Regions from separate parts of the Homo sapiens genome. Here region 1 is linked to region 2. The links come from fine-mapping of genetic effects on gene expression. Tissue or cell type: unexposed skin. Region 2 holds a variant in brackets; the other region holds the start of a gene. All regions are shown on one strand. Distances are between the middles of the regions.

What was found. PIP is the estimated chance that this variant, and not a neighbour inherited with it, causes the effect.
Region 1: it holds the start of EDARADD, and the variant in region 2 is fine-mapped to the expression of EDARADD in unexposed skin (GTEx, PIP above 0.99).

The regions. Positions count from the first base shown.
Region 1 is chr1:236,392,864-236,395,486 of GRCh38, forward strand. EDARADD (EDAR associated via death domain) reads left to right here and starts at 1,423. Exons shown (of 6, transcript NM_145861.4): 1 at 1,423-1,642. The coding sequence starts at 1,582. RefSeq lists an enhancer at 2,045-2,094 and a silencer at 2,295-2,623.
Region 2 is chr1:236,479,943-236,482,702 of GRCh38, forward strand. EDARADD (EDAR associated via death domain) reads left to right here. Exons shown (of 6, transcript NM_145861.4): 6 at 2,325-2,760. The coding sequence ends at 2,707. Among named protein-coding and RNA genes, the nearest start is that of LGALS8, 43 kb to the right of the region's middle. The variant C/G (reference allele first, on the strand shown) is at 1,107.

The sequences.
Region 1 (2,623 bases), 87 kb before region 2:
TTCACCATGTTGGGCAGTCTGATCTCGAACTTCTGACTTCAAGCGATCCACCCACCTTGGCCTCCCAAAGTGCTGGGATCCAGCTAATATTTAAATTATTTTGTAGAGACTGGGTCTCAAAATGTTGCATAGGCTGGTCTTGAACTCCTTGCCTCAAGCAATCCTGCCACCTTGGCCTCCGAAAGTGCTGAAATTGCATGTGTGAGCCACCATGCCCAGCCAGTATTTTCACATAAACATTATTTCAGTGAATTCTCACAATCCTGCAGACACTTGCAGACTCAGTTTTGGTTTCTTACTTAATGTAACACAACCTTAGAGTGACAGGTCCATCAGCGAAATCCAGCATATTTGACTCCATGATTACCAAATGCACTATCTCCATTTATTGGAAAAGGAAAATTGGAGGTCACTCAAAGAGCAGTGAAGTTATGGAAATATGAAATTTTTCACATGACTCTGAGATTGAGTGTTTGGGTACTATCGGGAAATGTTAAAAATGTCCATTTTCTTTTCTTTCTTTCTTTCTTTTTTTTTTTTTTTTTTTTTTGAGACAGAGTCTCACTCTGTCGCCCAGGCTGGAGTGCCGTGGTGCAATCTCAGCTTACTGCAACCTCCACCTCCCAGGTTCAAGCGATTCTTTTGCCTCAGCTTCCTGAGTGGCTGGGAGTACAGGCATGTGCCACCAATCCAGCTAAGTTTTTTGTATTTTTAGTAGCGGTGGGGTTTCATCACATTGGCCAGGCTGGCCTCGAACTCCTGACCTCAAATAATCCACCTGCCTTGGGCTCCCAAAGTGCTGGGGTTACAGGTGTGAGCCACTGCACCCAGCCCAAAAATGTCTATTTTCAATAGTGGTTTAAAACACTCTTGGACAGCAAAAGAAATAAAAGTTGAAGGACATTGTGACAGCAAATTGATTGTATGGGAACTCTGGTGAATGCGAATCATTTTTAAATTACTTTTTTTGTAAAGTGCAAAACAACAATAGCACCCATTTGCGTCATACTTTATAGTTCGCAAAGCACATGGGAAAAATAAAGGTAATGATGGGGATCGTTGCAATTCATAGGAAAGGAGGCACGAGGAAATGAAAATGAAAGGGAGTAATAACTACGTAACTAGTCAATCTTCCTTAAAAAAAAAAACCCTTAAAATATACCACCATCTTCTATTTGATATAATGCAGAATGGGAATGATAAAAACATGAATTACATTTCAGAGTTTCAAAAAGCAAACCAGCTTTATAGCAATGCTTGAGGTTGGGCTGCTAACAAGCTCACTCAACTAGTGTTTCCTGACGGCCAACGTCAGAATAATTCCATCTCCATGAGAAGTACAGAAAGAACCACAAACCAAACCTCCAAATTGATTCTAAGATAAAATACCCTTAAAAAAAATTTCCCTTCCTATCCGAAGGCAGACCAAGAGGAAGTTTATCCTCCCACCTACAAATTCCCCAGAGAGCTTTCATCTAGAAGGTTTGACTCTGGCCAGACAACCAGCGAGCATCTTCTCGCAATCTGTTGCTTCTTCCATGGCAAACTCCAGAGAATTAAGAAGCCAAACTCAACATCGCCATGGGCCTCAGGACGACTAAACAGATGGGGAGAGGCACTAAAGCTCCTGGTCACCAAGAGGGTATGTAGGCATTTGCTGTCTTCCTGGATTTCTCAGAGCTGAGTTTTTAGCCAGAGGTTGCTTATTTACGATAATTCTTGGATATATTATACACTAAATACTATTATTATCTTTTTCGACCCGACTTTTATCTTTCTGTTCTTATGTGTGAAGGCAGAGAAAGATTATTTAGAGCTCTTCAAAGATTCCTATTTAATTTAAAATGCCTGTCGCCTTCCTATAATAGGCTTATGATGGATGATAGCTTTAGTTAAAATGTAGCAATCTTAAATATATTCTTCATAACCAATTCCAACGTGTTCTCACTTAAGTAATGGGTATAAAACCCCACTTAAGCGTAATATTTTAAATATTTGAAGCCATCTTTTCTGAGAGAACCCGAAGCTGTTTTTTCTAGAGAAGCTGTGAGTGTGTATTGGGCGACTTCTGTTCACTCCTTTTCTGCAGCACTCACCCTGGAGGTCATGTAGTAACTAATGCCAAAGAAAAATCAAAATAGAAAGTACCAGCGTGTGCCATCATGCAGCGGCAGAGCCTGCTTAAAGATCAGGAAATTTGTCTAAATATCAGATCGCCGGCGGGCATCTCAGCCCAGGCCTGTGTAAGGGGAGTTCTGGTGTCTCAGCTGAGGGCGTGAGTAGGGAGCCAGGAAAGCGACCCGCGACTGCAGCCGTTTCTTAAGGCCAGTCCTTCGCTCGCAGTCTGTCCCGGGCGGCAGTCGTGTCAGCCCCCCGCTAGGACCCGCCCAGGGGGACGTGGGTACCGGGCAGGACGCGCGCTCTGGGCGCTGGGGACGCCCGGGACACTCGGGGCCCCGCCTTGCGTCCCAGCCCCGGGTCGCGGCACCCCGGCTCCCGCCCCGCGCCTCTGGAGGGAGGTACCGAGGGACGCGCAGCGAAGGGGCTTTGCTAATTGCCAAAGCAGGAAGTGAGCTCGTGGAAGAAGCGAAGGAGGAGAAGAAGAAGGGAGGGGAAGGCGGAG
Region 2 (2,760 bases):
GGCTGAGGCAGGAGAATTGCTTGAGCCCAGGAGTTCCAGGTTATGATGAGCTATGACTGTGCCACCGCACTCCAGCCAGGGTAACAGAGTGGGACTGTCTCAAAAAACAAAACAAAATCCCTAATATAATCTCAGTGTGCCTTTTAAGTATGCCATATATATATATATATATATATATATATATATATATATATCACATTTTCTTTATCCACTCATTGATTTTCATGTAGTTCTAATCGTAGAATTCATACATTCTTTCTATCTTCCATCTTTCACATAACATCACAAACATTTTCTAGGTTGCCATATTGTCTTCATAGTTACTTAAATAATATTCCATCAAGTAGCACAATCATTTATTTCACTAGTCCTCTAACTGTAGACATTTTGGTTGTTTTTGAAACTTAATAATGTAAATAACACCGTGATAACAATGTTTATGTAAATTCATATTTTGGATTATCTCCTTAGGGTGGATTCCCAGAAGTCACATTAGTAGGTCAAAGAGTATGAGCCTATTTTCAAGGCTCTTGTTTTATTACCTTTTAATTTCCACTTGCCTCAATATTGCTGGTTTGCTCCCTTATGATCACCAGAGTTACTCCGTCGGTCCAAATTCTTTACCTTCCGAAACTGGGAAGGCCATGACTCAATGTTATATATATAGTAAAGGCTACTATAACCTTCCCCAGAATTTTCCAAGCCAGTGGTCTCTAAAGTGACCTTTGGCTGTTAAAATCTGAATTCAGAGGGTTCATGAGACTCAGTGTTGTTGTAGAATTTAAGCTCCTTAATTTGCCACGTTGTTTAGACACCACTTAATACTTTATTGCAAATGACTTGTCAACGCCTCTCACCTACAAACTTCATCCTCCTACAAATATACCTCCTGCTAATCAAATGAGGCTACAGTTGAGTCTTTAAGTTTCAGTAGAAAGATGGCCCTTCCTCTGGGGTAGGCGCATGCTCTTCATGCTGAAGCTCAGCTGAAAAGCCTCCTGCTGAGTTTTCTGCCTCTTTCCCTCCCACTGCACACACCCCAGGGTGTTGGCGCCACTTCAAAGGGAGCCTGTGGATGAAGAAAACACAGGTAAAGGCAGAGGGCT[C/G]ATAAGGGGGCCATAAATTTAAAAAGTTAAGATTCCTGGCACTATCAACTCTCACTTGTTTTCAAATATGCATATGGAGTGGATATTCCAGTTTTCATGTCTGTGTTGTTGTTTTTAAAAAAAGACCTTTCAAAGAACTGTGCATTTTTTACAGGCTGACAGGCTGTGTTTGGTGTTAAACTGTCAGGGCTGACTGGTCACTTGGAAAGGGCAAGGGCTGAGGTGCATGCAAGTGTCGGCTGGTTACTCACAGACACAGCAGCCCCTTTTACCCCGGAGAGAGTTCTGTTTGCTGGAGCCCTTATTCTGGCCAGCAGTGTCACAAATGCACACTGTAAGACATAGACAGTCTTGGAAAGAAAGGGAAACTGGCTTTAAAAATTCTTACTCCTTCTAGCAAAGCAATTCATCTTTGGCTATAAAGAATAACACAGCCAGGTGCGGTGGCTCATGCTTGTAATCCCAGCACTTTGGGAGGTCAAGGTGGGCAGATCACTTGAGTCTAGGAGTTCAAGACCAGCCTGGGAAACATGGTGAAACCCCACCTCTACCAAAAAAAAAAAAAAGAAAGAAAGAAAAGATTAGCCAGGTTTGGTGGTACGTGCCTGTAGTCCCAGGTACTCGGGAAGCTGAGGTGGGAGGATCGCTTGAGCCTGGAGGGCGGAGGTTGCAGTGAGCCGAGATCATGCCACTGCACTCCAGCCTGGGCAACAGAGTGACACCCTGTATCAAAAAAAAAAAAAAAAAAGAACAGTAACACATTATTAGAAATGAGCATTCTGAGGCCAGGCACGGTGGCTCATGCCTATAATCGCAGCACTTTGGGAGGCCGAGGCGGGTGGATCACAAGGTCAGGAGATCGAGACCATCCTGGCTAACACGGTGAAACCCCGTCTTTACTAAAAACACAAAAAATTAGCCGGGTGCAGTGGCGGGTGCCTATAGTCCCAGCTACTCAGGAGGCTGAGGCAGGAGAATGGCGTGAACCCCTGGGAGGCGGAGCTTGCAGTGAGCCGAGATAGTGCCACTGCACTCCAGCCTGGGCGAAAGAGCGAGACTCCATCTCAAAAAAAAAAAAAAAAAGAAAGAAACGAGCATTCTGAAATAGTCTTCCATATGATGCTTTTGACAATTCAGCAGGAAAATAAAGGATGTAAGAAATGAATGCATATGTTAGGCCTCTTGTTGACCTGTGGACTAAATTGTTTCTCCCTGCAGAGATCAGCAAGGACAACTCCTGCAAAGAAAACTGTACTTGTTCCTCCTGCTTGCTCCGGGCCCCCACCATAAGTGACTTGCTCAATGATCAGGACTTACTAGACGTGATCAGGATAAAGCTGGATCCGTGTCACCCAACGGTGAAAAACTGGAGGAATTTTGCAAGCAAATGGGGGATGTCCTATGACGAATTGTGCTTCCTGGAGCAGAGGCCACAGAGCCCCACCTTGGAGTTCTTGCTCCGGAACAGTCAGAGGACGGTGGGCCAGCTGATGGAGCTCTGCAGGCTCTACCACAGGGCCGACGTGGAGAAGGTTCTGCGCAGGTGGGTGGACGAGGAGTGGCCCAAGCGGGAGCGTGGAGACCCCTCCAGGCACTTCTAGAGCTCTTCTTCTTCCTTCATTGGCCTCTCCGGATGTTGAAACAACCACAGGTC